Linked DNA regions of Homo sapiens: all the other regions are linked to region 1. The links come from fine-mapping of genetic effects on gene expression. A gene starts in region 1. Each other region holds a variant in brackets. All regions are shown on one strand. Distances are between the middles of the regions. Region 1 holds the start of MPEG1 (macrophage expressed 1). Region 2 overlaps PATL1 (PAT1 homolog 1, processing body mRNA decay factor). Region 3 has its middle 8.9 kb from the start of DTX4.

Region 1 (8,185 bases):
AACACCCAGAACCCACAAAACACTCAGAGGTTTAGGAGAATGTTTTAATGCTTAAGAGGCAGGATCAAGTGAAGAGGTTACAGAAATCAGTGTCTCTGGCTGGGCAGTCAAGAGAGCGGGCTCAAATTCTGTGACTCACTTCTCTGTGTCTCGGTTGGAAATGAATGGGTATCCTGGTTCCCACCTTCCCACACACTGTGATACTTCAAACTCCTTGGGTGAAGGGCCTCTTCTCAGCCCAAGATCTTGATTGTGAACATTAACAAAGAGAACAGTCATCCTCCACAGAAGATAACTCATTAATGACATTTGATTCAGTGAATAAATATATCATTTAAAAAAATATTGTAGGGGGATCATGAAAGTAGTGGAGGTAATTACAATCAGGAGAGATTGGTATTAAAATTGAGCAAAGTCCCAACTCTCACCAGATGACAATTATGCATCCTGCTAGATGCCCCAGGGCTGTCAGCCTGGAACTGAAATAAATGTGTTATAAGTGGTGCTGGATGCCTTTTTCAGTTCATTTGAAAACATGGATTTGATCATGTCAGCTCCCTTTCTGCTGGAAAAAAAAGTAGTTTGCATAATTGGTGTTAACTACTCTGTTTTGATTCTACAGAGTAAGTAATACTCAAATGTGGTCTTACTTTAACTTCTTGCCTTTGTTACCCCCAGAACCATGCAGACATTGAAATGTGGTGTGCGTGTGTGTGTGTGTGTGTGTGTGTGTGTGTGTTCATATAACAGGAGGACAGGAAAGGTAAGGACCCAGAACAATGAAGACTTATTGAAATGTGGTATGTGTGTGCGTGTGTGTGTGTGTGTGTGTGTGTGTGTGTGTGTGTGTTCATATAACAGGAGGACAGGAAAGGTAATGACCATCCATGGAAGATGAAGGGGTAGTACTTAGCACCAGAATCTTTTCCAGTTTTTACCCATCTTTCATTACTCCTTGTCTCCAAATCATCCCTTCCTTAATAACTTAAAATAACTTAAAATATTTTCTGAGGACTTGATGACACCAGTCAGAAGTCCAAGAGTGGTCTGGTATAAGGGAGTGTTCATCAAGGGGCAGCTGGAAAAAGTGGAATTGGCACAGGCAACATCTTTCTTTTCAGATGTTTGAGGTCACCCAGAGGAGATAACAGTCTGTCAACATAGAGCCCTCAAAGTTAAAAAGCAGTAGCCAGGCAAGACTTGTGTCTTTTCAGGGCTCTTCCAGGCTCTAAGAGTGTGAAATTCAGACAGGTTTTTAAAAATCAAAATAAAAGGAGAGTAGTTCTTACAGGCAGAAACTCTTAGAGCTCACAAATTGGAAACAACTGCAAACTTCAGAGTAAATTCATAGCTTCCAAATACAAATGTTCACATTGTCCCTCCGCTATTTTTACACAAATGCATTCAGGTGAAGACAGCAACACACATTGGGAAAGGACATCTGCTTCCTATTTTAGTCCCAGAATCACTTTTGCTTCTAGTCCCAACTGTTCCCTCTCCCCAATCCCAACCTTATCCATGTAACAGTATGAATTTCCTGGCCCAGAGACCTAAACAAGAAGTCACGAATATACCTACTTTTGGTTGCACTTGCCATTTCAATGCTTAGGAAAACAGAGTGGTCAGCAATGACCACACTGGAGATGAGAGAAACCATTTTCGGGGAGAGATTTAAGCTGGACTCTGCCCCTGCTCTTGGTAAGTGGTGTCTCCAGTTGCTGCAGTGCCTGGAACCAAACTCTGCCTTTCCTCAATTGCCTGATATGCTTTCTTCTTGAACTTCCGGGTGCCGTAGATGGCCAAGGTGATAACAACAGCCAGAATGGTGGTGACCCCCACTGTGACCCCAGCTGCAGCCCCTCCTGACAGACCACCACCATCCCCATGGATGACATTCATGGCCCTCCGCAGCTCTATCGGTTCTCCCAGCCTCCACTGGTGGGTCTGGGAGTCTTTAATCCAGGATCTCGCATTCTCAGAATTGGTCACTATGACAGTATTGGTGGCAGCCTGACTCATGAGGGGTGGCCGGGTGAAAGGTGGGAGCCTGGCAGGGGGCAGGGACCCTCCTGTGAAGAGCCCGGATTTGACGCAATAGGACACTTGGCATCCATCGCTGATGAGGGCTGGGTGCTGGCTGAAGCCCCCGGGGCACTTTTTCAGAGACGGTGCCCCTAAATCTCTGGATATAGCAGGATCTACCAGGGGGTTCCCAACTGTGCAGCTAAAGAACCCGCCAAAGGGGACCGCAAACCTGCTTCCCAACTCATAGTCCTGAGAAACACATACCTTGAGGTTTTCAAAGAGTCTCAGTGGAAAGTAGCCGGCTGGGCATGACTGTGCATTTGTCATGGGGTTTATGCTCTTGCTGCTGAAGAGGCCCCCAAAAAGCAGTCCTGAGTTTTCAGGTACTTGGCTGCTGGCCACACACCAAAAAGCCCTAAATTCAGCTTTTGCCACCTGGAACACATCTTCACACACGGTCTTGCAGAAGACGAGGAGAGTGCACTTTCGATGACACTCCAGGTGGTTGTAACCCTCCTCGTGGATCTGGGATAACAGGTGCACCGGGGAGTAGCCAGAGGGGCAGGAGAAATCACCAGTGAGTGGATTCTTCTGCTCCAACTTTTGGCAGAGGAGGACATCCCTATTCCCTGAGAGCTGAGTGCATTCCTGATAAACCCCACCGAAAGAGAAGTTGGTCATTTTCCCCTCGCAGGAGCCATCATCCGTGTTGGCCTGAAAATTGAAGTTGGGAGAATTGAGATCTGTGCAGCCAGGGTAGGTGTTGAATGTATAATAGCGCTTCACAGCAGTTTCCACTGTCTTTGACACCTTCTTCACCAGGGGGCCTGGCAAGTCAGGTAGCATGTTGGGGTTGATGAAGAAATGCAGCGGCAGGCCAGAGCGGTCGATGGCCACCAGGTGGTTGGTGATACCCTGCTGCCAGGCCTGGAGGGTGATGCCTGGGTAAAAAGGAACCCCTCCAATGCTCTGCACCCTGGAGTTGGTTCGGTTTGAGAGGTAGCTCTTGGTGAGGACATTCTGCGAGGTATAGTTTTCCTCAAATTTGAAGTTCACGGTGTTTTGAAAGGCAAGTCCAGCAGAGGCGGTCACGGCACTACGACTGCTCTGGCTGTCTTGGAGGAAGGAGGCCCTGAGGTGGTCCTCCTGAATAAGAGCAGCCCCAGCGTCGACACTGGTGGTGACGTGGGTGCCATAGTTGAGCACCAGGAGTTCTGCCAGGTAGGTGGCCATCCTCGTCTGGTTGTTCTCTAGACGGTCAGAGATGTCAAGGAGTTCCTTCCTAAAACCTGAGCTTAGCTCTAAAGTTGGGTTGATTTTGACTGTGTAGACGAGGTTTCTTACCTGAACTCGGGTAGTTATAGCTTGGTCCTTCACTTGGAGGGTCTTCATCCTCTGGAACTCAGTGGAAAACTTGCCATTGACTTTGGAAAAAAGAGAGAGTTCTGTGTTGATGGAGTAGGAGGTGCTACTCTGGTAATTTGCCCAGGATTCCAGGATTTCTGAGTTCATCTCCAGGTTGCTCTGTTTCTGGGGAATGGTGAAGATTTCATCAGGGATGATATACTGTCCATCCTCTGTTGTCCTGCAGTTGGAGTAAGTCAATTCCATAACTCGTCCCATGTCCACATTCCGCAGATTGTCCCAGCCCCCTCCAGGTAGGACTTCCAGGACAGGTAGTTTCAAGGCATTCTTGCATTTTTGAACTCCAACTTCGTCCATCTCTCCCGAAGGCTTGCCTGATTTAGCCCATGCTGCCGCTGCCCAGAAGAGGATGGTGGCCCTGAAGTTGTTCATGGCTCAGACAGCCCCAGCCACTCACCAGCCCTACACAGCGGCCAGCAAGCTTTGGGCAAACTAAGATGGAGAAAACAGAAGCAGATGATGAAGCGGAAAACTCATGAGTTCTCTAAAAGCTACAAGTTCCTCTTTAAGCTAATTTAATGACAAAATGGGGAAACGAGAGTTGGTTGGAATATTAAAGACCATCAGGTCTTTGAAGAATTTATGCCGTACTAAACATGCAAACACACCCCTACATGCCTAACAGGTAGCTATCCTAATTTTTCCCCCAGCTCTGGCTGGTTACTCTGCTGCAGGGGTGTGCACTTAGAAAAAAATCCCGACCCCACACCCTACTGCTTCCTCCACCAGAAAGTTTGGCTTTGCTTTTTGCTCATTCTCTTGGACTTGATGTTTCATATTTTCCCTGACTGCTGTCTCTTGGGACTCCATTATCAGTTTTCTTTTACTATAAATGCAGAGGCAAATGACCACACCACCCTTACTGAAACACCCTGGCTCCACCATACCTATGCAAGCTGTTAGTCAAGGCCAACCCTGGGTTTCCTCTTTGCCTGAGGGTGGAGGCTGTTTCCACAAAAGAAAGGAGTGAAACTCTTGGACACTTGTCCTGTGGGTTTCACTGTTATGAACCATAGCAATTCTGTCTTTGGGGATGGCATTGTCTGGAGCACAGCTGACAGGGCCTGAAGAGGATTCGGTTGCAATATGCTGGGAAACCCCAATTTGCATTGTCCTAAGCATTCAAAGCGAGGGCAAGGAACTCCTACACTGTGTTGTTTTCATTCAGATAGAAATGTTCAAGACAAAACCACACTATTATCTAGATTTTGATTTATCAACAGCAGACAGGGGCCAAGGAACATATGTGTATGTGTACACACATTTATATATCCTCTGTGTGTGTGCATTTTGTATGAAGTTGGTACCTGTTATACCTTTAATTTTTTGTTCCATTGCTAAGTGTGTGTAATCAGTTTAGGTGGATAAAAAAGAATGTGGCTCTTCACTACCCAATATTTTTTCTAAAAGCAAAAATTCATTTGCTATATCATTAGAAGAATATAATTACATGAGTTTCTTTTCAAGTTCCAATGCCAGCTCTATTAGAGCCCATAATTTAAAACAATGGTGACAGGTTTGATTGAAACCCAACTCTGTTAATTCTTTGGGACAATTAGGCTATGTCTTAGTATGCTTAGTGGTAGCCAGGGAATCCAGAGGACTTAGTGAAGCTCCCAGTTGCATCCTTAACATTCCCAAGATTATACCATGAACTAGATACAGTACTGAGACTGAAAAAGTCATGTTGCAATTCACAGGTATCACTACACCATCACCTGTATGCATCCTGGAAGGAAGGTTCCAAGGAGTTGAATTCCTCTGTTGGTTATTAATGCAGCAAAGAAGTGTTTTTAGAAAGAATGAGGCTAGTTATCTTGCTTCCCAGGCTGGGCTTCACCAGTTATTATCAAAACCATGATGGTGTTCTATAAATCTAGAAATACTGCATTCCGGGTATATTTTTTTTTCCAAGACAGGGTCTTGCTTATTGCCCAGGCTTGAGTGCAGTAGCTATTCACAGGCATGGTCCCACTACTAATCAGCATAGGAGTTTTGACCTGCTCCATTTCCAACCTGGACCCGTTTAGCCCTCCTTAGGCAACCTGGTGATTTGCTCCAAGGAGGCCACCATATTGATGCTGAGCTTAGTGCAGACACCCAACTGGCATAGCACACTACAGCCCAGAACTCATGGATTCAAGCAATCCTCCCACATCAGCTTCCCAGGAATCTGGGACTGCAGTCATGCACCACCACACCTGGCCATTCTGGTTCTATTTGTGCCACAGTTATCATGCTTCTGGGAAGTGACACCAGCCACCTAAGAGGGATTAATTTATGAACCAGTGCCTAGTCTGTATTTGGCTAAAGAACCAAATCTTTGCACAGGATGTTCTAGTTAATTTATAAATCAGTTAGCCATAAATTTATACCTCAGCAGCATGATCCCAGAATTAGAAAAATGAGAGTTGAATGCCCTTGAGTACTTCCAATAAGTCTGTTGAAATACCTACATACTTCTCTTCAAACTATTTCTGGGATGGTTCATCAAAATTAGAATACTCTCACACTGCTTTGGAGACAAGCTGACAATTTGTTACCCTCTGCTTTCTCTTTAGTAGACCCTGTTGAGAGCTCACTCTCCTGAAATGAGAATACAAGCAAGGTTAATACAGACAATTCTATATTCAGGTGTTCCTATGTCTCCAGACGTCTAGTCACTGTATTTTTTATTCTATAGACTTTGTCTTCATTTTATCATAGGAAAAAAAAATTGAAAATAGCAGAAAGAGCCAACAACGGTAAAATTACATTGTACCCATAAGACAAAATATTGTATAGCCATCACAATTATTTAAAACTATTTTAATAACATGAGAAATTCTTATGCCATAATGTTACTGGAAAGGGTTCCCAATGCAGACCTCAAGAGAGAGTTCTTGGACTTTGTGCAAGAAGGACCAGGGCAAGTCCACAGAGTAAGGTGAAAGTAAGTTTATTAGAGAAGTAAAGAAACAAAAGAATGGCTACTCCATAGGCAGAGCAGAAGTATGTGCTGCTTGATTAAGGATACTTATCATTATTTCTTAATTATATGCTAAACAAGGGGTGGATTAATCATGAGTTTTCTGGGAAAGAGGTGGGCAATTCCCAGAACTAAGGGTTCCTCTCCTTTTTAGACTATACAGGGTAACTTCTGGAAATTGGCAGTCATGGCACTGGTGGAAACATCTTTTAGCATGCGAATGCACTACAATTAGTGTATAATGAACAATGAGGATGACCAGAGTTCACTCTTGTCGCCATCTTAGTTTTGGTGGGTTTTGGCTGCCTTCTTTACTGCATGCTCTTTTATCAGAAAGATCTTTGTGATCTGTATCTGTATCTTATGCCAATCTTCTATCTCATCCCATGACTTAGAATACTTAACCCTCTGGGAATGCAGCCCAGCCTTCTTTTACCCAGCCCCTATTCGAGATGGAGTTATTCTGGTTCAAATATCTCTGACAATAATGTTATGAAAAAAAAGAATGATAAACATTCAGCATGACCCCAACTATGTACATAACTAGAGGGATGTACGCCAATGCATAGACAGTAATTACATCTGGTTGAGAGGTTTTTCTAAATTATTTTAATTTTTTCCTCTTTTCTGTGTTTTTTGAGTTTTCAACAATGAGCATGTATTTATTAACTCGAGAAATTTGTATTCAGAGCCTATTAAGTACCAAACACTGATGGGTATTGGGTAATCATCACTTTTGTGCTCAGGAAAATAACCAATGCACAACCATGTAAAAAAAAAACAAAAGAAACAGGCCAGGCAGGGTGGCTCATGCCTGTAATCCCAGCACTTTGGGAATCCGAGGTGGATGGATCACTTGAGGCCGGGAGTTCAAGACCAGCCTGGCCAACATGGAGAAACCACATCTCTACTAAAAATACAAAAAAATTAGCCAGATGTAGTGGTGACACACAACTGTAATCCCAGCTACTTGGGAGGCTGAGGCAGGAGAATTGCTTGAACCCAAGAGTTCGAGGCTGCAGTGAGCCGAGATCGTGCCACTGCACTCCAGCCTGCGAGACAGAGTGAGACTGTCAAAAACACAAACAAACAAACAAACAAAAAAACTTAGTTCTGGAATTTTTATATTCCTGAAATGACCCAAAGCCTATGGATTATGTGACTGCTGTGCTCAAGGAAGTTCTCTTTCCAGTTCTCTGGGAAACAGTGAAAGGAGAAGTGCAAATGATGGGAAATTTGGCTTAACTTAATTTTACATACCAGGAGCAGAAGAACTGCTCATAACAGTCACATATGAGGAAGTGGTGACCAGTGCATTTTACCCACAACTTTTCTGTTTTATTCTGTTCACCAGAAATTTCCTTTGCTTTTTCTTGTACTGGAATGCATATGCAGTCACATAACCTCCCCAGATGGCCACACTTGAGGAGTAATGGCCTGTGGCTAACACTGATCTCTAAAAGAAAGAGGCATCTTGTCTACAAAAACTTTGCATCTGCGTTGCTGAACGGCGATTTCACTTCCTCCAAAAAGAGGCAAGAAGGAAGTCCCACATCTGCTTTCTTTCTCTGTTTGATCCCGTGCAACCTTCTGACACCATCTCATTCAGCGCCAAACCGTGATTCATATCTGAGGTTCGCTTCTGTGTGGGCTTGGAACTAATCCAGGTGTTTCCTACTTCTGCATTTCACCTGTGGTCTAAAATGGGGAGGAAAGTCTAGTTGCATTTGCTGGGACAATTCCCTTTCAGCAGGAATCTAGGAAACC
Region 2 (8,185 bases), 430 kb after region 1:
CCTGGGCAATGTAGCGAGACCTCATCTCTACTAAAAATCAAAAAATTTAGCTGGGCATGATGGCACCCGCCTGTAGTATTCCCAGCTACTTGGGAGGCTGAGGTGGGAGAACTGCTTGAGCCTGGGAGGTAGAGGCTGCAGTGAGCCATGATTGTGTCACTGCACTGTAACCTGGGTGACAGAGAAACTCATCTCAGAAAAAGAAGAAAACCTTCAGGCTGAGTGCAGTGATTCACACCTGTACTCCCAGCATTTTGGGGGGCCAAGGTGGGAAGATCACTTGAGCCTGGGAGTTCAAGACCAGCCTGGGCAACATAGGGAGATCCCGACTCTACAAAAAGTATAAAAATTACCCAGGTGTGGTGGTGCACACCTGTAGTCCCAGTTACTCGGGAGGCTGAGGTGGATCACTTGAGCCTGGGAGATCGAGGCTGCAGTGAGTGGTGATTGTGCTACTGTGCCACTACACTCCAGCCTGAGTGACACAGGCCCTGTCTTGAAAACAAAACCCCACTTTTTTTTGCCCCTTTCTATGTGTTTGCTGAATCTTTTATCTTGAGCATTTTAGAGTAAAAATGATACTCAAGTCTGAAATAATAAAAATAAATTCACTATAAAGAATGACCAACCTTTTCCCATCTCCTTTGAAGAGATGAGTTTTGAAATACAATATGCTCAGAACTAAGTAAATACTATCCATGAAGGCAGCTGAATGCCTCATTGGGCTACATGAGTCTCTTAAAGGGGGACAGATTCCTCAATGCCTAGAGATGGGCAGGATGGAGAAGACAAACTACAGTTTATCTACTACAATTTATAATTTTGTCGTACAGTTAAAATGGGGGGAGGAGAAACTGAAAGCATCTTAGATTTTTAAAGACAAGTTATTATATAAAAATATTTGTCTTCTTTGCAACAAAATTAAAAAGGTAAAAATATAGGTAATAATATCTTTAATCCCCTACATCAAGAAGTTGACAGTCTATCTAAATATGCTAGAAACATAAAAATCATATTCAGAGGTAACAAAGTAGAAATGCAGGCACTCATTTTTAAGTATACAATTTGTTTTTATTTACAATACCCTATAAAAATGTAAATTTAGAAACTTTTATTTTCATTAATTAGAACCAATCCAAACAAAAAAGATAAAGCACAGTAAGGAAGAGATAATAATCAAGTATTCACTTGATTGGTTGTGAAGGGAAGGTAGGAAAGGCATGTAGTGGAAATGGTCAGTAGACAACGGTAGAGGGAAGCTAGGTAACATCACTGGGGAACAGCTGGTGGAGCCTGGGGTTACAGCATGGGAAGAAATGGAGATGGAGAACAGGACAGCTGGTTTTAACAGAGGATCTTACTGTTGTACAATACATGTATGTGCAAAATGTTTATTCTCTTTAAATACCATAACCTGTCCCTCCCACCCCCCAACTACATTCGAAAAAGTAAGAACAGCAGAAAGATCACGAAGGCCATGTAAAATTAATTCAGATTTAATTTTCTTCAGGGCTGTAATCACTAGGGATCAAAACTCCTTAGTCTGGTTGATTGCTGAATGGGAGAGGAGTAAGTGAGAAAGATCATGGCAGGCTGGCCCTGCAATTATTCAAACCCAGGCCCCTGGCTGCCTGGGAACGGGACTTGGGTGAGATGAAGTAGTAAAGACAGCAGTTCTGCCCATGGTGTGGAGACTAAAAAGCAAAGCAGGCCAAACTTAGCTTCCATGGTTACATTTGGAAGTTTCTATTCATGACACCAAATAAAAGTGGGGAAGAAGGAAGCATGGCTTACTGAAGTAGTCTCAGGAAGACAGGGCAAGTGTGCAAAAAGCCACACTGCCAAAGCAGGCTACTAGTGAGGATCATCCTGGGTGACTTCGAATGCACTTGAGGGGAAAGGCTCAAGTACCCTGTAGTTGTAGCAGGAAAAAGACATAACCATGTGTTGTTTCGATTAAGGTGGACAGAAACTAAGGAAATAAAGGTGGGAAGAAGAAAAAGGACTTCTCAGCCTAGACCTGGGCATAAGCCAATTAAGAGTTCTGATTTTATTAAACGTGCTGCATACTCTTTATTTATGTTAAAACAAGTAGAACCCACCAAATTAATTACAAGATAGAACAGAAACAGATTAAAATACATCAGCTGGTTTGTGTTTAGAAGAGGTAATGAGACAACTAAATATTTTTCAATCTAAAATTCATTCTTTAAGGACCCTCTGAAGACCACATAAATACATGTATGGGGTGTGTGTGTGTGTATCTATGTGTGTGTGTATATCTTGATTTCTACTTAATTGGCTCTTCTATAGTCATATTAATATGGGGCAATGAAAAAACAACTTCAATAGGATGAGGGAAGGAATCCTTTGGCAGGCTACAATCTACTCTGAGGTGGAGTAGTGGAGGGATAAAGGGAGAGATTACACTTGTGTCTCTAGGGCAAAGAAAATGCAAAACAGAACTGAGTAAAAGTAGGACATGCAGAACTGTAACACAGAAGGTAAAGAAACCAGCAGAAGTATCACCCAGCCAAATTTCATAGAGCAGTGGGGAAATATCTGACATTTAGAGAGACAACCCCTGTAAACAGGAATCGATCCCACAAGACTTTGCTTTGGGGAAAAAGCTACCTTCCTTCCCTCATTAAAAACACTCCATTGGTGATGGCAGCAGTGCAGGTGGCAGCCAAAAGGAGGTACAGGACACATTTGGAGATCTTTTATCGTATCCCCTGAACTAGCCTAGGAGTACAAAGGAGAGAAAGGAAAATTGTATAAATGAGTTAAAACAGAAGGCAATCTTTCATATTACAGTTACATCTTTGTAAGACTTCTCATAACAAAATACCCGAGATTATTTCTCTACCCTTAGCATTTGGTCATCTTTTATGAAGGCCCTGTTGTACCCAGTTCAGTGTTTTATATCTAACAGATACACAAATAGTTAATAAAAAGTCAATCTCTTCCACCAAATTCAGTTTTATTCCCCCCTCCACCCCAATCATAACTTCTTTTTATTTATTTTTTTTGAGACAGGGTCTTGCTCTGTCACCCAGGCTGGAGTGCAGTGGCGTGATCTCAGCTCACTGCAATCTCTGTCTCCCGGGTTTAAATGATTTTCATACCTCAGCCTACCGAATAGCTGGGATTACAGGCATGCACCACCGCACTTGGCTAATTTTCGTATTTTTTTAGTAGAGACAGGGTTTCACCATTTTGGTCAGGCTGGTCTGGAACTCCTGGCCTCAAGTGATCCACCCTCCTGGGTGTCCTAAAATGCTGGGATTACAGGTGTGAGCCACCGTACCCAGCCTCCCAACCATAACTTCTAAAGTCCCAACTTTAGTGAGATGTGAAACTCTCCTGTTTCAAACTTACTGCAGTTTTGTCTCCAGCAAGTTCAGTTTCTGCCGGTCAACATAGCGAGAAAAGAGGGACACTAGGTTTGTAGGTATAGAGATTGGCTTGGCCAGGGCTGCTTGGGGAATCCGCAGAAGTTCTCGTGTTGCCATGAACATCACCTCCGTCCTGACAGGGAAGACCCATAATAATATCAGGAGAAAAAAATTTAAAAGATTACCTCAAAGAACTTAAAATAAGAGAAGAAACAGTCCACACTGACCACTGATTATTTTGTGTTGATTCTGTAGCAGGGTCTGAACTCTGTAGGTCTTCACCACGGCTCAGGAGGATGAGGAGCAGTGACAGGCCAAACTACGAGAAAAGACAGAGGGAATCAAACTCAACACTGTGTCTAAACCTCCTCCACCACTGTTGAAGGGATCCTGGCATCAGATGGGGAACAGCTCTAAATCAAAATAACCTCACTACTGTGCTTTTCTGTAAAACCAGGTAAAGATCAGACAAGCATGAGTTGAAAGGCTATGTCTCTCTCCAGGCTTTATTCTGCCATAGCAGTGACCAGGCGCAGCCAACAGAAACGGAAAGTCATGGTGTCCAACACGCCTCTCTGTTCCCCATGCTGAGGTTAAAAGATGGTTTTTCCTTGCCATGGATAATGTAGAATTTGACTTTTCTCCTATTTATGAGAACAGAAATAGGCTAAAAAAGAAAGTAAATGAAGACCAATTTTGGTACAGAAATTAAAAATCAGGAAAAAATAAGAAAAAAGCATTACAGTAAGATATTTTGAATTAAGAAACAAGGTGTAAACTGTAGGAAAATATACAAATAAACACAACTGAAATAAACATGGTATAAAGAGAAACTTTCCATTAAAAAGCACATCTCTATCTGGAAATACAAAGTCTTAGACAGAATGTTAATAAAAATCTAAAAAATAAAAAGAGAGAAAGGGTAAACAGATGTATACACCGTATCTATAATTAAAATTCAGCAACATGCTTTAGAGTATGCAATATATAAAAATGGTCAGGTGTGGTGGCTCATGCCTGTAATCCCAGCACTATGGGAGGCCAAGGTGGGTGGATGACCTGAGGTCAGGAGTTTGAGACCAGCCTGATCAAAATGGTGAAACTCCGTCTCTACTAAAAATAGAAAATTAGCCAGGCACGGTGGCACATGCCTGTAATCCCAGCTACTTGGGAGGCTGAGGCAGGAGAATTGTTGGAACCCGGGAGCTGGAGGTTGCAGTGAGCCAAGATCGCACCATTGCGCTCCAGCCTGGGCAACACGAGTGAAACTCCATCTCCAAAAAAAAAAAAAAAAGTAACATATAAAAATGTGTTTTATTTAGTGGACAGTAAAATCAGGAAATGTAGTCTTTGGGGCATAGGATTAAAATATGGGACGGGCGTGGTGGCTCATGCATGTAATCCCAGCACTTTGGGAGGCCAAGGCGGGTGGATCA[A/G]GAGGTCAGGAGATCGAGATCATCCTGGCTAACACGGTGAAACCCTGCCTCTACTAAAAAATACAAAAAATTAGCCAGGCGTGGTGGCGGGTGCCTGTAGTCCCAGCTACTCGGGAGGCTGAGGCAGGAGAATGGCTTGAACCCAGGAGGCGGAGCTTGCAGTGAGCTGCGATCGCGCCACTGCACTCCAGCCTGGGTGACAGAGCAAGACTCTATCTCAAAAGAAAAAAAAAAATGAACAGGGGGCTGGGGATGGGCATGGTGGCTCATGCCTGTAATTCCAGCACTTTGGGAGGTGGAGGCAGTACTGCTTGAGTCCAGGAGTTCGAGACCAGCCAGAGCAACATAGTGAGACCCTGTTTCTGCAAAAAATATAAAAATCAATCGGAGGCTGGGTGTGGTGGCTCACACCTGTAATCCCAGCACTTTGGGAGGCTGAGGCAGGTGGATCACGTGAGGTCAGGAGCCCCGGACCAGCCTGGCCAACATGGCAAAACCCTGTCTCTGCTAAAAACACAAACATTAGCCTGGTATGGTGGCGGGCACCTGTAATCCCAGCTACTTGGGGGCTGACGCAGGAGAACTGCTTGAACCTGGGAGGCAGGGGTTGCAGTGAGACAAGATATCGCCATTGCACTGCAGCATGAGTGACAGAGCAAGGCTCTGTCTCAAAAAAAAAAAAGTCAATCAGGCATGGTGGCACATGCTACTCAAGAGGCTGAGGTGGGAGGATCGCTTTGAGTACAGAAAGTTGAGGCTGCAATGAGCTGTGACTGTGCCACTGCACTGAAGCCTGGGTGACAGAGTGAGATCCTGTCTCAAAAAAGAAAATACAAATAGGGACAAGAAGGTTTAGGTTAAATGTATGACTCATACCTATAAATGGATCATAAAAGGAAGGCTGGCAGTACTTTGGGATTCCATTCCAACTTTCTAGACTCACTCACTTTTCCACAAAATTTCCCTTCATGGCCGGTTGCAGTAGCTCACACCTGTAATCCCAACACTTTGGGAGGTCGAGGCAGGCTGATAGCTTGAGCTCAGGAGTTTGAGACCAGCCTGGACAACATGGCGAAACCCCACCTCTACAAAAAATACACAAATTAGTTGTGCGTGGTGGCATGTGCCTGTAGTCCCATCTACTTGGGAGGCTGAGGTGGGAGGATGGCTTGAGCCCAGGAGGCAGAGGTTGCAGTGAGCCGAGATCTTGCCACTGCACTCTGGCCTGGGTGACAGAGAAGACCCTGATTTAAAAAAAAAAAATCCCTTTTCATGTTATTCTCAGAAAAAAAATACTACTGCCTTTACTAAAATTAAAACTAAGAGACCAAATAACAGAAAGGCACATTCCGGATCACTCCAGAACCCCAGAGGCACTGTCACCTCTTCTTCCTCTGATACACTGACCTTTAGAGTCATGCTTTGGTAGGTTTTCTGGTGCAAAGGAGCAAGAGGCCTTGAGACCACTTTTTCATCTCTACTGTACATAGAATGGCCCTTAATGAGTAACTACTATGTACCAGGCATTATATCGAACCACTTACAACTGTTATCTCATTTAAGTACCAGGACAACTCTATGAAGTCTACATCATCACCTCCATCTTATAGACCAGGAAACTGATTCAGCAATGTGATATCATCTGTCCAAGGTCACAAAGCTAGACAGTAGCAGGGAAGGACTAAAAATTCATATTCTTTATTTCATATTATGTTTCCCCTAGGAATCTCTGAATCTTTAAACTTGATGCAAATAAAATATGAAATGGATGATTCTACTATTCATAGTGTTATGACAGAGACTGCTAATTGCCTAATATGCCTTCCTACCCATTATCAGAACTCTTATGTGTCATGACAATGGCATAAACTAAAAGATATTTTCCAGCCTTCCCTGCACTTAGGTGTGGCCATGTGACAATGTCCTGGCTATTAACAGTAAGTAGAAGTTTCTGGTTAGAACTCCTGGAAAAGGTCTCAATAAGGAAGATGGACAGCTGGTCCACATCTTTTTGCCCTCCACATCCACCTGTCCTTCTTGATGTAAAGCTGAATCATGAATTCCACAGCCATCTTGGACCATGAGGAATAATGAACATGGAAGCCACTGGTAAGAATGGCAGAGGAAAAAAAGTGAAAAAGCCTGGATCCCTGATGACTCTGTCGAGCTACTAAATCAAATTTATTTCACACTAGACACATAAAATCCCATTTTGTTGAAAACACTGTTATTTCTAGCCGGTTACTAGGAGCTTAATGTAACTCTTGACTGAAAGAAGCCTTTTTCCCAAGTTGCTAGAGATACAGCAGCCATTATTTTAATCTATAACGCAAATTAAGACATTTCACAAAGTTCAAGGAGTTAAAAGGGCAAGATCACCTTGTTCTGGAGCACAGCAGTGAGGTGAGGATTGGAGAGTGCTGGTGTAGCTGCACTTTGAGGTAGGTTCATTAGCTGTCGCAAAAGGCTGGTGATACTCACTGATGGAAGATGATAGAGAAGGAGAGAGAAGGGACTCAGTAAGCATGGCAGCACCTACAAAAAACAAATAAAAGCATTATATCCTGGCACGTGTTACTTCAGTTACCCCCCACCAGGGGCATGGATGGAAGGATGTTCATTTGTATATTCAACCACTTAAGGCACAAGTCTGGCAGATATGACTAGAGTCTTAATAATGAATTCTAAGCTATCTACTGAGAACTTTTTCATCTCAATTTGCATTGGAAACACCATGACTTGTGTGAACCAAAGGTGTAAAAAAAAATCACTCCCAAATACATACCAAGAGTTATGCTAAAACATCAATATTTTAACTAATTCCATAAATATTTAAATGCTTACACTACACCATGGGCTAAAAACAAATGGCAAAAGGACACAGAACCTCAGGGATCTAAAGTATAGCGGAGAAGATATGGGTTAATTGGCCATTTCAATATACTGTGAGAAGCACTCCAAGATAGGTTAAAGGCCAAGCAGAAGATCACTTCAGGCCAGGAGTTCAAGACTAGTCTGGACAACGTAGTGAGACCTCATCTCTACAACAAATAAAAAAGTTTCACCTGTAGTCCCCAGCTACTCAATAGGCTGAGGTGGTAGGTTTGCTTGAGTCTAAGAGTTCAAGGTTACATTGAACTATGATTGCACAACCACATTCCGGCTTGGGTGACAGGGTGAGACCCACCCTGTCTCAAAAGAAGTGTTTTCAGATTTAATGTATTTTCTTTTATTTTTATAAAAGCTCAATGAGGAAGAAAAGAAATAATTAGCCAATTTTTATAGATTTTTAGAGAATCTATAAAGTGATCAGAAACTCAGTGTTTGGAGTTACATAGCCACAGCTAGAGC
Region 3 (8,185 bases), 50 kb before region 1:
GCCAAGGCTCTGTCTACCTCTGGTTGGCTTCACTTCTAGAGTGTAGCCTGGAAGGGCCCCAGCTGAGGCCTTGGGATGTTTACTAGTGTCCTCCCACTTCCTGCGTTATCGAATTCAGAACTCCAATTTTTATCTCCTCAGCACTGTAAGTCTTTAGGGCACTCTGCTCCACTTTTCACTGGATGACTCCAATGGGCACAAGGCATGAAACTTAGTGCCATCCTTAAGGATCTAAAGGATACAGAAATGATGCTCCCTGTCATGTATGCATTTAGTTCATCAGTTGTGGAGAATGACCATTCACTATCACAAAATCAACCAACTGGTGGGCCCAGTTGCAGCCACTGTGCCAGATGTGGAATCTTTGCTAGAGCAAATGCACATTTAATCAGGTACATGGTATGTGGCCATCAGTTGAATTAATGCATTCTCTTCTATCTCTATCAGAAAAAGGGATCATAAATAGTTCCACTCACATGGAATAGACAACAGTGTACATGTGTATTTTTGCCCCAGGACTATATTAGATATAGTGTTCCTTCTGTTATAATATAGATAGAAAAGATTTGGACTACTTGTACTTCCTTCAGACCATCACACCTGTCTACTATATCGATGTTAACATGCTAATTAGGCCAGATGGCAAGAAGTAATCAACTACCTTGGAGGTGCCGGTACACATGCATTTCAGGTGACAGGAAATAAACCCCGTGAGGAATCAGAGGCCCCCTAAATCAGGGGCATGCTAAGACCACCCATCCAAAGAAAAGGATGAATTATTGAATCTTGCATACCCCATGAAGAAAAAGAAAGTACACTGCCTGATAAATCTCTTTGGGTTCTGAAGGTAGCATATTCCATGCATGGGTATACTGTTTCAGCCAATTTACAGGGGATGCTATAGGCTGCCAGCCTTGAGTGGGGTCTGGATTAGGAAAGGGTCCCAGAAGATCCAAGCTATAGTGAAAACAGTACAGCTGCTTGGACCATGTGCCCTGGCTGACCCTCTGGTATCAGATGTGGGAAAAGATACCATGTGGAGTTGATAGCAAGCCCAAGTGGGAAAATTACAAGGCAAAGTTTTGGGGTTCTGGAGAAAGCCCGTGTTTTTTGCAGTGGATAGTTATATATCTTTTGAATAACAACTCCTTTTGAATTATATACTGTTTGAATATACCTTTTGGGCCCTGGTAGGGAGCACCTAACCATGAGACATTAAGTGACTCTGCATCCAAATCTCGCCATTTTTTAGTGAGTTCTATCAGAATTATCAAGTCATAATGTCAAGTGTGGCCAAAAAACCAGTCTCTCGTATGATGGAGTTGGAATGCCTAGCATTGTGCAGCATGAGCAGGAAAGGAGACCACAAGTGAGTTGTATGACAAATGTGTGGAGCAGGCTCCCAAAGATGTTCACACCATAATCCCTGGAATATGACCATGTAGGTTATATGGGAAAAGGGAATTAAGACCGCTAATCATCTAAGTTTAAGATAGCAAGGTTATCTTGGATATCTGGATAGCCTGATGTAAGCACGATGATTCTTAAAGGTGAGAAAAGGGAGAATCAGAGATTCAGAGGGAAACGTGACCATGAAAGAGGCACAGAGAGATGCAACACTGCTGGCTTTGAAGATGGGGGAAGGGGTCATGAACCAAGAAATGTGAGTGAGCTCTAGGAGAAAGAAAAGGCAAGGAAACAGATTCTCTTCTAAACCTTCCAGAAGAGAACTGAGCCATAATGATACCTTGATTTTAGTCCAGCGAGACCCATGTCAGGTATCTGACCTATGTAGGCCTATACATCAGCCTGGGAAACAAAGGGTAGAGGCAGGAAGGGCCCTGCTTAGCTTTATCTGTATCCCTAATAACACACTTAGGGAATTTGTGCTTCCTGTCTCTCCCTCTGCCATCCATGCCCCTGCCAGCCCCCAGGTCAGGGCTCTGTAGGATGAAAGGTCCTGATTCCCTGTGGGGGCACACTTCTGCCAGGGGACACGGAAAGAGTCCTGCTGAACTCTAAGCTATAGCTTCTGCCTGTCACTGCAAAGACTTTGTATCCAGAGACCAGTATGCAAGAAGAGTCATTGCCTGGGCTCAGGCAATTAACCCAGTTCTTCAGGAGGAGGAAGTGCTTATGTGACACAGTAAGGGCAGGGAGAAATGTGTTTGCCACTCACATGATCCATTTGGACCCTACTTGACCAAATTTGATAGTAAACAGACAATTACACCACCATAGCTTGAAAATAGCATGGCAGCCAGGGTCTCAGACCCCTCAGAAATGAAGATTTGGGTCCTGCCACCAGGTAAGACACCAATACTAGGAGAAGCATTACCTGAGGCTGAGGCTGATATAGAATGGACACCAGAGAAGGGAGAGAGTAAAAATCAGTTACATCCCCTAAATCAATTGCTGTGAGAAAAATGAGAATTCTCTCCGAAATTCCAAATAAAATAAATTCTCCCTTTATTTATTATTTTATTTATTTGAGAGAATTATCTCTCAAATTCCAGCTGTGCATTGTACCAACTGGAATTTGAAAGTGAAAAAATACCATTTATTTGAGCAATTTCCCTCCTTCCCATCCAAACTAACTTGCTGAGATTTTGATTGCATTTGCAATGAATCTGTAGAACAAGTTGGGAAGAACTGATAACTTGACAATACTGAGCCTTTCTATAAATGTACATTGACTATCTCTCCATGTATTTAGTCATTCTTTGATTTCATTTATCGGAATTTTGTAGTTTTCTTCATATAGAGCTTGTTCAGTCTTTTCAGATTTATGCCCCAGCTGTCTCTTCCCAGTGGAGTTGTATAGATAGTGCTATTTCTCCCAGCCACAATGTGTGACAATACACATGAAGTATCATCAGCCAGGGAAGCTCACCTGAGCTTCAGTGTCAGGGTTTTTACTGGGGGCTATTCATGTAGATATGGCTGACCTTAGTCTCCAGATCCTCCAGAAGTGGTGCTGATAATGTGTGGTCCAAGTCCACCACTATAAATATTAAATAAAATAGACTTCAGATCAGAGAAAATTACCAGAGACAGAGAGTGCTATTATATAATAATAAAAGGATTGATCACCTAAAAGACACAGTAATTACAGGTGTGCAAGCACAAAACAACAAAGTGACAAAATATGTTAAGCAAATCCTGATATAACTAAAAGGATAATAGGCAAATCCACAATTATAGTTAGAGAACTCAACATCCTCCTCTCTCAACAACTTATAGAACAACTATACAGAAAATCAGCCTGGATATGGAAGAACGGAACAACATGATAAACCAACAGGGTCTACTGGTCATTTATAGAACACTTCATCCAACAGTAGAGTACACATTCTTTTCAAGCACCCACAGAGTGAATACAAAGATAGATCATATCCTAGGCCATGACACAAACCTCAACAAATTTGAAAGAGTTGAAATCATATTGAGTGTGTCCTCTGGGCTACAATGGGATCAAACTAGGAATCAATAACCTAACAATAACAGAAAAACCTCCAAACATTTGAAAGCCAAACAGCACACTTCTCA[CTTCT/C]TTCTTTCTTTCTTTCTTTCTTTCTTTTTTTTTTTTTTTTTGAGACGGAGTCTCACTCTGTCACCCTGGCTGGAGTGCAGTGGTGCGATCTCGCCTCACTGCAAGCTCTGCCTCCCGGGTTCATGCCATTCTCCTGCCTCAGCCTCCCAAGGAGCTGGGACTACAGGCTCCCGCCACCACGCACAGCTAATTTTTTTTTTTGTATTTTTAGTAGAGACGGGGTTTCACCTTGTTAGCCAGGATGGTCTCGATCTCCTGACCTCATGATCCTCCCACCTCAGATAGTGCGTAGGTTAAAGAAGAAGACTCAGGAGAAATTTAAAAAGACATTGAACTGAATAAAGGTGAAAATAAAGCGTCTCAAAATTTGTGGGACACAGCCAAAGCCATGGTGAGAGGAAAATCAATAGCACTAAATGCTTACATTAGGAAAGAGGAAAAGCCTCAAACCAATAATATCAGCTTTTACTATAATAATCTAAAAAAAGAGCAAAATAGGTAGCCAAATTAAGACAATAATAAAGATAAGAGCCAAAATAAACAATGAGTTGGTTCTTTTGAAAAAAAAAATACATGAAATTGACATACTGCTTAGCGAGACTGGCAGGGAAGGAGGGAAGGAGAAAGGGAGAGGTGGGGGGAGAAAACCAAATTGCCAATAACATCAAGAATGAAGCCATGTTATCACCACAGCCCTTGAAGATATCAAAAGTATAATAAGCACACATTATGAACAACTCCACACATAAATTTGACAACTTGTATAAAATGGACCAATCCCTTAAAAAATACAAATGACCACAACTCATCCGATATGAAATAGGTAATTTGAATAGCGCTCTATTAAGGAAATTGAATTTGTAATTTAAAATCTTCTGAAAAAGACATCTCCAGGGCTAGATGCTTTTACTGGACAATTCTATCAAACTTTTAAAGAAGAATTAACACCAATTCTATACAGTCTGTTTCAGAAAATAGAAGAGGGTAGAAAACTTCCCAATTCATTTTTATGAAGCTAGTATTATTCTGATACCACCCCTCCCAAAATGAAAGTATTAAAAGACAAACTTTAGACAAATTTAATTTAACAGAATTTTACAGAGCAAAGAACAATTCGAGAATCAGGCAACTCCACAGAACTAGAATAGATTGGGAGACACTCCAACACTGCCACTTAGTTGAAGATAATTTATGGACAGAGAAAGGAAAGTAGCTTAGAGAAAATGAAAGTGAGGTATAGAAACAGCAGCCTTGTTTCTATACAATAAGAGAGCAACTCAAATATCTAGGAGGATATTAAATGTTCCCAACAAAAAGAAATGATAAATGTTTGAGGTGGACGTATATGCTAGTTACCCTGATCTGATCACTATATATTATATGTATCAAAACATCACTATGTACCCCATAAATATGTACAATCATGTGTCAATTTTAAAATACAATTTTAGAAAGTATTTTGAAATAAAAAGTTTAAAAAAGAAGAAAAAAGAAAAGAAAAGAAACAGTTGCCTTGGCTACAGCGCAGCATTTACCTTGTTTGAACACTATTGGAACAGTTGGCCTCCTGTGAGTGGTTGAAGTATTGCTTCTGTGATTGGCTGAGACTCAGGTAGTTGCTACAAAAGTAGGCTAGTCTGTTTCCACATTCGGTTAAGTTATAGTTCACTATGTATTGAGAAACGTTTAGGTTAAACTTAAAGTATGTAAGGAGGTAGCTTTAGGCTAAGCTTAATTTAACAAAAGAAAGAGAAAAGAAAACTATACACCAAGATTCTTTATAAATATAGACCACCGCCAATTTTTTTTTTTTTTTTTTTTTTTGAGACAGGCTCTTCCTCTGTCACCCAGGCTGGAGTGCAGTGGCTCATCATAGCTCACTGTAACCTTGAAATCCTGGGCTCAAGGTACCCTTTTGCCTTAACCTCTGAAGTTGGACTACAGGTATGCACCACCATGCCCAGCCCCCTGAAAACTTTAACAAATGAAATATAGCAATATTTTATAATAATTATACACTATGACAAAGTGGGGTTTATTCCAGGGATGCACATCTCATTAAGTATTTGAAAATCAATGCAATCCACCATATTAGCAGTCTGAAGAAACAAAATCTCATGATCATATCAATTGATACCAAAAAAGCATTTAATAAAACTCAATATCTGTTCATGATTTAAAAAACTCTCAGAAAAATAAGGATAGAGGAAAACTTCCTCAACTTGATAAAGAACATCTAAAATGAACACCTACAGCTATTATCACAGTTCTTAGTGAAAAACTAGATGTTATCTAAGATCAGAAACAAGGCAAGAATGTCTATTCTCACAACTGTATTAAACATAGTACTGGAAATTCCAGGTAATACAATTCTAAGTAAGGCAAGAAAAGGAAATGAAAAACATAAGGATCGGCCGGGCGCGGTGGCTCACGCCTGTAATCCCAGCACTTTGGGAGGCCAAGGCGGGCGGATCACGAGGTCAGGAGATCAAGACCATTCTGGCTAACCCAGTGAAACCCCGTCTCTACTAAAAATACAAAAAATTAGCCAGGCGTGGTGGCGGGCGCCTGTAGTCCCAGGTACTCGGGAGGCTGAGGCAGGGGAATGGCGTGAACCTGGGAGGCGGAGCTTGCAGTGAGCCGAGATTGCGTCACTGCACTCCAGCCTGGGCGACAGAGCAAGACTCCGTCTCAAAAAAAAAAAGAAAGAAAGAAAAGAAAAGAAAAGAAAAGCATAAGGATCAGAAATGAAGAAACAAAATTGTCCCTATTTGGAGATGACATGTAAACTCCTAAGGAATCTATAAAAGAACTCTTAGACCCAGATTTGGACTCCTTAGCAAGCTTACAAGATACTAAATAAACATACAAAAATCCATTGTATTTATATGTACCAGCAATAAGTACGTGGAACCAAAATTAAAAATAGAATGCCATTTATTAATATAATCACTCTGAAACAAAATGAACTACTTAAGTGTACATTGAGCAAAAAATGAACTGGATAGGTATGCTGAAAACTAGAAAACACATAAAACAAAGAAGATCTAAATAAATAGAGAAGCATATCCATATCGTGTTTATGGATTGGAAGACTTAACACAGTAAAAATATGTCAATTCTCCTCAAATTGATATACAGCTTCAATGCAATTCCTATCAAAATCCCAGCAAGAATTTTTGCACATATAGACAAGATTATTCTAGTATTTATGTGGAAATCAAAGGATCCAGAATAGCCTAAACAATTTTGAAGAAGAATAAAGTGAGATGAATCAATCTACCCAATTTACAATAAGACATTACATAGCTTATTAATACAGCTTATTAATCAACATTGTGCAGTAGTGGTGAAGGGACAGACATATAGGTCAATGGAACAGACTAGAGAAACCAGAAATAGATCTACACAAATATGCCAGACTGATTTTTTTACAAAGACTCAAAAGCAATTCAAAGGAGGAAGAAAAGCCTTTTCAACAAATAGCGCTAGGACAATACATCTATAGGCAAATAAACACATAAAAAGACACTCAAACCTCACTCCATACACAAAAATTTAACTCAGAATGGATTGTAGATTTACATGGAAGTTGTAAAAGTATGAAAGTTTTAGAACAAAACAGAGGAAAAAAATATTCAAATCTTAGGACTAGCCAAAGAGTTCTTAAAATTAACATGGGAAACAGAAGCCATTTAGAAAAAAAAAATTTGGTAAGTTGTATTTTATCAAATTAAAAAACTTTTGTTTTGTGAAAGACGCTATGAAGAGCATGGAAAACATAAGCTACAGATTGAGAAAAAATATTTTCAAACTATATATCCACCAAGAGTATTTATTTATTTATTTATTTGAGACTAGGATTCACTCTGTTGCCCAGGCTGGAGTGCAACATCACCATCACAGCTCACTGCAGCCTCAACCTCCCAGACTCAAGCGATCCTCCCACCTCAGCCTCACAAGTAGGTGAAACCACAAGCCTGCACCACCGCGGCCAGCTAATTTTTGTATTTTTTGTAGAGACAGGGTTTCCCCATGTTGCCCATGCTGATCTCCAGCTCTTGAGCTCAGGCAATCGAACTCCTGACTGGGCTTCCCAAAGTGCTAGGATTACAAGCTTGAGCCACTGTGCCCAGCCCAATATTTAGAATATAAAAAGAACTCTCTAATTTCAATAATAGAAAACAGAAACCAGCAAAAGACCTGAACAGATATCAAAGAGCATATATGGCAAATAAACGCATGGAAAGATGTTCAACATTATTAGTCAATAAGGAAACAAGTTAAAAACAATGAAATAACTCTACACACTTACCAAAATGGCTAAAATAAAATATACTGACCAAAAAATGATGGTGAAGATGTAGTGACCAGATCATGGGTATATTGCTGGTGAAAATTCAAAATGGTGCAGCCACTTTAGAAAACTGGCAGTTTGTTAAAAAAGCTAAACATGCAACTACCCTATGACCTTGCCATTGTACTCCTAGGCATTTATCACAGAGAAATGGATACTTTACCTTCACACAAAAACCTGGATGAGAGTGTTCATAGTAGCTTTATTCATAATAGCCCAAACTAGAAACAACTTATATGAACTTCCATGGATGAACAGTAAGGTGGTCCATGGAT

What was found.
Region 2: its variant is fine-mapped to the expression of MPEG1 in whole blood (INTERVAL, PIP above 0.99).
Region 3: its variant is fine-mapped to the expression of MPEG1 in whole blood (INTERVAL, PIP above 0.99).

The regions. Positions count from the first base shown.
Region 1 is chr11:59,209,044-59,217,228 of GRCh38, forward strand. MPEG1 (macrophage expressed 1) reads right to left here and starts at 3,884. Exons shown (of 1, transcript NM_001039396.2): 1 at 1-3,884. The coding sequence starts at 3,822. The coding sequence ends at 1,672. It also overlaps the pseudogene RN7SL42P. RefSeq lists an enhancer at 3,861-4,060.
Region 2 is chr11:59,635,667-59,643,851 of GRCh38, forward strand. PATL1 (PAT1 homolog 1, processing body mRNA decay factor) reads right to left here. Exons shown (of 19, transcript NM_152716.3): 16 at 7,214-7,369; 17 at 3,626-3,717; 18 at 3,382-3,531; 19 at 1,050-2,745. The coding sequence ends at 2,724. Among named protein-coding and RNA genes, the nearest start is that of OSBP, 24 kb to the left of the region's middle. The variant A/G (reference allele first, on the strand shown) is at 4,835.
Region 3 is chr11:59,159,122-59,167,306 of GRCh38, forward strand. No RefSeq gene overlaps it. Among named protein-coding and RNA genes, the nearest start is that of DTX4, 8.9 kb to the right of the region's middle. The variant CTTCT/C (reference allele first, on the strand shown) is at 3,550.